2 linked regions of the Homo sapiens genome follow. The protein of the gene in region 1 interacts with the protein of each later gene in a pairwise test. Each region holds a gene or a part of one and is shown in the gene's direction. Other genes may lie near its edges.

Region 1 (3,600 bases):
GCTCATGGAGGAAGAAGCTGTGCAGCACAGCCCAACAGCGTTTTCCCCTTTCGGTTTTCTAGAGTAGTCTTGCAGAACTATTTTTTGGTTTTTTTTTTTTTGAGAGAGTCTCACTCTGTTGCCCAGGCTGGAGTGCAGTGGCACCACCTCAGCTCACTGCAACCACCGCCTCCTGGATTCAAGCGATTCTCCTGCCTCAGCTCCAGAGTAGCTGAGATTACAGGTGTGCACCAAAACACCTGGCTAATTTGTTTTTATTTTCAGTGGAGACAAGGTTTCACCATGTTGGTCAGGCTGGCCTCAAACTCTTTGACCTCAGGTGATCTGCATGCCTTGGCCTCCCAAAGTGCTGGGATTACAGGCATGAGCCACTGCCCCTGGCCATAGTCTTGCAGAACTACTTTGTCACTCCACAGAGATCAGTAGTTTAAGGCACAGCGAAGGTGCCCAGCTGAACTTTGATTATTTCCTGTGCAGCATAAAGTTCTGCTCCTCGGGAGTAAATCTGCAAATCAGAGCCTTCCTCAGGAAGATAGCTCTACAGATGACCCAGGGGAACAAGTACAAGCCGTGCGTTCCAGCACCCAGGATTTCTTGTTTCATGTCATTTTAAAGAACACATGGTTTCGAGTATACTATGGAGTCCTAGGTTTATTCCCAGCCTTGGCCTCAGTTGTCAAGCTAGCTGTTCCTTTTTACTTGGGGGATTCAGCCCCTTCCCATTTTACCCACCAACTCTTAATCATCTCCCCTGCTCTACTCAACCATCTTTTTCTGGACACTCTTCCTGCTTCCTGCATAACCTAGTTTAGAGCAGTCCCCTTATGCTAGTCTCTAAAGCTTCCTGTTCTTATCACAATTTTAATCAAAGTATACTCTCTCTCTTTTTTTTTTTCTTCCTGAGATGGAGTCTCACTCTGTTGCCCAGGCTAGAGTGCAGTGGTGCGATCTCAGCTCACTGCAACCTCTGCCTCCCAGGTCCAAGTGATTCTCCTGCCTCAGCTTCCCAACTAGCTGGGCCTACAGGCCTATGCCACCATGCCGGGCTAATTTTTGTTTAGTAGACATGGGGTTTCACCATGTTGGCCAGGCTATTCTCCAGCTCCTGACCTCAGGTGACCCACCTGCCTTGGCCTCCCAAAGTGCTGGGACTACAGGTGTGAGCCACCACACCCAGCCCAAAGTATACTCTTAACCCAGGGTGGGCACACACTGCTACGATCAATGATGGTGTGAGGTAATAGTGAGTGGTGGGGACTGTGGAGGGAATATGGCCACCGAAAGGACGGTTTCACTTGGCTGCAGCAGAGAGACTGGTTCCATGAGGGTGTGCACTCATTGTTTCTGGACCTCCCATATTTTCAAAGGAAGCCAGAATGTGGAGTTTTAAAGTGAAATGCCCCCCAATATTTAAGTACTGACAATTTTTAAAAACAATGTAGGCCAAACAAAACACATAGGTGGGCCGGGCGCAGTGGCTCATGCCCGTAATCCCAACACTTTAGGAGGCCGAGGCAGGTGGATCACCTAAGGTCGGAAGTTAGAGACCAGCCTGACCAACATGGAGATACCCTGTCTCTACTAAAAATACAAAATTAGCCAAGCGTGATGGTGGATGCCTGTAATCGCAGCTACTCAGGAGGCTGAGGCAGGAGAATGGCTTGAACTGGGAGGCGGAGGTTGCGGTGAGCTAAGATCATTGCACTCCAGTCTGGGCAACAAGAGCAAAATTCCGTCCCCAAAAAAAAACAAAAACAAATTTTTTGTTTGTTTAGTTTGAGCCACATAGGTGGCTCCAAATTTGTAGGTAGCCTGTGGTTTAATATCTTTCTCTCCCGTTTAACTCAGCTCCACGGGGCACATGGCATCTCCCTCTGCTCATCACAATGTCTGGATCAAACAAATGAAAAACAAAAACATGATGGCCTCTCCCAGCAAAGCTCCAGGGTTGGAAAGAGTCCCCTGGCAGGGAATTGGCACCCCGTCGTGCCCATCCTCTCTCTCTGACTGCCTGCTGGAAATGCCCCCATCTCCCTTTGAGTCCTCCTCCCGGGCAACCCCTGTGACCTGTAACCTCTGTCCTGAAATCATCACAATGGCCAGAGTGGCCTCAGCTCAGGGCCTCTGTGACATCACCAAGGGCCTGGCACCAGGTGCCCAGTCTCCCAGTTGCGAGGGCAAGCAAACCCGTCATGAGCAACTCCCTTCCCCATCTCTGCTCACCATGTGGACGCTGAAATCGTCCCTGGTCCTGCTTCTGTGCCTCACCTGCAGCTATGCCTTTATGTTCTCTTCTCTGAGACAGAAAACTAGCGAACCCCAGGGGAAGGTGCAATACGGAGAGCACTTTCGGATTCGGCAGAATCTACCAGAGCACACCCAAGGCTGGCTTGGGAGCAAATGGCTCTGGCTTCTTTTTGTTGTTGTGCCGTTTGTGATACTGCAGTGTCAAAGAGACAGTGAGAAGAATAAGGTAAGGATGGCTCCATTTTTTTTACACCATATTGATTCAATCTCAGGAGTCTCAGGGAAACGGATGTTCTAGTGAGTCTAGACGGCACCGTTGGGTATAATGAACCGACCTCATGGTCCTGGGCAAAGCTGGCAAATTCACTTCCTGATGTATCCTTAGTGAAGACAATTGTCCCCAGATCCACAGATACTGGGACAAAGAGTGGAAAGTGACCTCTGCTTACTGGCTCACAGATTTTCTGGTTAGATGGATTTTTTCAAATGTAGGATAGATTCAAGAACTTATGGTGTGTTTCAGAAAGTCAAAATTATTCACAGGGCCAGATTCACTAGCCCCTGTTTTTTAAATTCTTGCTAGTGTTTGACTTACTACAAAATCCTGAGCTAAATGGAAATGATATCATTATCCCAACAAAATATGAGACTTGTGCTGAAGAGATAAAGATGTAAGGTAGTTTGAGCTGGTCCTCAAAGTGACCACAAACAACTCTTTCAGGTAGAAAAGGAAGGGGAGAGAAAGTGCGTTCTCCCCTAGAAAGACCCAGCACTTCATAATCCTGTGCCCAAACTGATGAGAGCAGGGATCGGCAAACCCTTCCCGTAAAGGGCCAGGGAGGGTGCGAATATCTTCAGCTTTGTGGGCAGTATGGTCTTCTTGCAACTACTCAAGTCTGCTGTTGTAACACGAACTGTGTCAAAACCAACAAAGTTCACAATATTACTGACCTTGAGTATCTTTCCTGACAGGAGCAGAGTCCTCCTGGCCTTCGAGGCGGCCAACTTCACTCTCCATTAAAGAAAAAAAGAAATGCTTCCCCCAACAAAGACTGTGCATTCAATACCTTAATGGAACTCGAGGTGGAGCTTATGAAATTTGTGTCCAAAGTGCGGAATCTTAAACGTGCCATGGCAACAGGTAGTGGCAGTAACCTCAGGCTTCGAAAGTCAGAGATGCCTGCAGATCCATACCATGTCACGATCTGTGAAATATGGGGAGAAGAAAGCTCTAGCTGAATGGATTTGTGTGTCAGGAGAGAAAAAAGTTGAGTGTTGACAAACTGTATGCAAACTAATAAAACTATTCTGAAGAAAAGAACTTCCATGTTTGAGAGCTTGCTTCTTTTCTTT
Region 2 (3,825 bases), on another chromosome or scaffold:
ATTTTTCTTTATGGCACTTAACTCTCTGACATTTTATACACACACACACATGCGCGCGCGCGTTCATTGTCTCTTTGTTAGAATGTAAGCTCTCTGAAGGTAGAAACATTGATTTGTTCTTCTCTGTTTCTCCACCTTAATCAGTATCTGACACAAGTAGATATCCAACAACTAGTAGCTAAAAATATTCAAACGTGAATACCGTAGACTATACAAGTATAGAGAAAAACTGCCTTTCAGGAACTCAGCTGTAACTTAACTCCTACCACCTAGAGTTCTATGATTATCATGATAGGAAAGTAGCTTTTAATCTAATCTACAAAGGATTTCATGAGAAGGAAAATTCTGAAAAATAGTTTTTAATGAGAATCTTATGTGAGGATCTTTCACACACACACACACACACACACACACACACACACACACACACACACATCTATCTATCCATCTATCATCTGTCTATCTATCTAATCCTCACTGAAGCCCCTTAAGGCAGGTATCATCTGCATTACCACAGATAAATACACGTGGACTCTGTGAGATTGTAACTTGAATAATGCCATGTGTACTAAAGGTACCAGATCCAGGAACTCAGATCTACCCGTCCCCAACAGCCAGGCAGCCAGGCATTTCCCTATTATGGTACCATGGGATATTGTCAGACATACACACACACACACACACACACACACACACACACACACACACATATATACATACATATAGTTATGACCATGGGCTAGGCTCTTATCCAGAGCTAAGCACTATGGATACAGTGATGATTAAATAAGATAGACACTGTCTTTAGTCTCATAGTGCTTACAGACTGAAAGGGATCTTGTAGAGCTAAAATTATGCTTGCTGCCACAAAAGTGGTATGTTTTCATTTTTTCATTCACTCAAGAAATATCTATTGACTACATACTATGTGTCATGCTTTGTGTTAAGAGCAAGGAATAAAATGGTGAGTAAAACCAGACCTGATTCCTGCCTTCGTGGGGCTTACAGTCTAATGAGGAAGTTATGAAATAGTCACATGCAAACATGGTGCTGTGAGATCCTACAAATAGGGGAAGCAAGCTTAATTAAATTAGGAGATTCTTGCTTGAGGAAGTACCACTTAATCTGAGATTTAAAGGATAACTAGGAGTTAAAAAGACAATGAGGAGAGAGAAGAACACTCCAGGTAATTCAAACAGCATGTGAGAAGATCCTATTGTAGAAGGAAAGATGCGTGCAGGAAGTCTTTGAAAGAGGCCAGTGTGGCTGGAGAGCTGGAAATAAGAAGCATCCTGGTGTCAGAGGAGCCTGAGAGGTGGGCAAGAGCAGGACTATAGGGCATTGTATGAAATCTGACATATGTGCTAAGTCAAAATCCGGCAGTGTGCTCTCCCAGTTGGTCTCTAGGTTAATGCTCATGCTAATGTAGCAACTCCAAGCTAGGGACAAAAAACCTTGGAGCAGAGAGGCTCATGGGTACCGGCAAGCTGGAAGAAGACTAGATAATCACTAGGATCTGCACTGAAACCAAGGCTCTGCTGCTTAACCGCCCCAGAGAGTCGTCAAGTGAAGAATGGCCTTTCTGAACCTTCACTTGCAGAGTGCTAATGTAGTAGTGGAACAGAATGCTGTTTTGGGAGCCCATGAAATTAGATTTACATTCTTCATCTGTTATCTCTACGTTTCTCAGGTTATAAAATGGGAACAAAGATATTTCCTTTTAAGTATTGTTAAAGATAATTAAATAAGATGATGTATTAAAGGACTTGACCTAGCGCTTAGCTCATAGCAGGTATTCAATAAATAATAGCCATTATTTTTCTTTATCTGTTAAATGGAGACAGTAATAGCACAGATTAAGTTGCTGAGTTATGAAGATCTGATTAGATTATGCATGTGAAAGCAATAGGCCGGGCCTCCTCTGCGTAATCTTATTTCTAATTTTAAGAGCCAGGAACCCACTTTTTTGGAGCCTGATGTTCTAATATTCCTTCCTTACGAAAGCCAGGTCATTGCTTTTTTCATCTGCCTGATGCACTGTAAGAGCCTTGTGTGTTCTTTCAAAAGCGATCTCTCATTTTTCTCGTTTTGGGTTTTTAGGTGTCTTTACATTTGGCAATCTCCGTCCTACAGAGGGCTGGAAAAGCCCTGCGGGAGACGGCATATCCACCACCCGCTGCTGGGTCGGCCCTGCAGCTGTGTGCACCCGAGAACTGCCAAAGAAGCTGGGTCTTGGCGCGGCGGGACGGGCCAATCAGAAGAAGTTTGGCCCTCTGCAGTTTCCGTCCGCTCACTAGGAGGCGCTGCGGCAGCGACGGCGGCGTCGGCGGCGGCCGGGGCTGTCGCGGGTTGGGGCGGTTGGGCTGGCAGCTGAGGCTCGTGGCCATGGAGTGGGGTTCTGAGTCGGCTGCTGTGAGGCGGCACCGCGTCGGAGTAGAGCGTCGAGAGGGAGCGGCGGCCGCGCCACCGCCGGAGAGGGAGGCCCGAGCGCAGGAGCCTCTGGTGGATGGGTGCAGCGGCGGCGGGAGGACGCGGAAGAGGAGCCCCGGGGGTAGCGGCGGCGCGAGCAGGGGCGCGGGGACCGGGCTGTCTGAGGTGCGCGCCGCGCTGGGGCTCGCGCTCTACCTGATCGCGCTGCGGACGCTGGTGCAGCTCTCGCTGCAGCAGCTCGTGCTACGCGGGGCCGCTGGACACCGCGGGGAGTTCGACGCGCTCCAAGCCAGGTACCGGCCGCTCCCTCCTGGCACGGCCCGCGCGTCCGTTTGCGGCTCCTGCGCAGGCTCCGGGGCACCGCACCTGTGTGCACCCGCCCCTGCCGGACCGCTGGGACTCGCTGACCCCTCCCAGGCTGCACGTGGGGTGGGGTGACCTTGCTTGTCCTTCTTCTGGGGTCTGAATTGCCGGGACTTGGGGCTTGCCTGTCCCCGGTTAAGCTCGTGGTGCAGATTGGGGTTGCCAGGTAGATTGAACCTGCTTTCCACTGTCTGCCCTTCGTGCAGATGGTTGGTTGTGAGTCGTCTCCCCATATTCTGGAACAGCTTCCCCTTTTTACCTTGCTTAGCCCTTCTGCTTTCCAGATGGAAATTTGTGTACCTAGACTGTTGTATAAATTCGCTTTGGGGGCGGGGAGTTTTGGAAGGCGCTAGTGCACTGTTCTAACTTTCTGAGGGTTACAGCCCCCACATCTGAAGGCTATAGAAACTCTTTCTGGAACACCGCCCAGTCAAAATTTGGTATGCAGTCTGATAAATTCTCAGATCCCTGCAGTTTATCTTTAGGCCCCTTGGATTAGTGACTGTGTAAGGTTTGACTTTTTTTTTTTTTTTTAAGACCTTTAAGAATGCTAGGAAAGGTGATTAAGTCAAAGATATTGTAACCCAGGTGTGTCAAAGCTCATGAAGTGTTAAGCTGGCGTCAAGTTTTCAACAGCTACTGTGTTCTAAAAAGTTTTTGCTAGAATGCAAAGTGTTGCAAGCTTATTAAGGACTTTCTGAAACGTCTCCCACCCCCACTTCCAGCTTTCCCCACTTGGAATGCAGTGAAAAGACAAAAACAGTTTTGTTTTCATTAGGGGTACAGTTGGTTTTGGCCTGAATTGAAGTTATTAGACCTTGGGTGTATGCTAGGAGGGCTAGGTCCATCAAAAGTTTCCCCCGCCCGCCTTATTTAACCTCTTGACTTGATTATTTTTGCTCATTGGTTTCTGCTACTTAAAGTCATTAACCCAGAATCTGTAACGTTCAGGAGTATGCACAGTGAAGTTATATTCTATCCTGCTTAGTCTTTAGCTTTTTTTGTTTGTTTTCTGAGACAGGGCCTGGCTCT

What was found. The genes of interacting proteins can lie anywhere in the genome.
Region 2: the proteins of FAM209A (region 1) and ERMP1 interact in binary tests that used the Homo sapiens proteins (3 or more experiments, as listed by UniProt).

What each region holds. Positions count from the first base shown.
Region 1 is NC_000020.11:56,522,585-56,526,184, forward strand, and holds FAM209A (protein FAM209A precursor), read left to right. Parts: upstream 1-2,159; 5' UTR 2,160-2,224; coding exon 2,225-2,473; intron 2,474-3,198; exon of another isoform or gene 3,199-3,219; coding exon 3,220-3,486; 3' UTR 3,487-3,568; downstream 3,569-3,600. UniProt on the Homo sapiens protein: May play a role in sperm acrosome biogenesis.
Region 2 is NC_000009.12:5,831,588-5,835,412, reverse strand, and holds the start of ERMP1 (endoplasmic reticulum metallopeptidase 1), read left to right. Parts: upstream 1-2,295; 5' UTR 2,296-2,385; coding exon 2,386-2,723; intron 2,724-3,825. UniProt on the Homo sapiens protein: Within the ovary, required for the organization of somatic cells and oocytes into discrete follicular structures.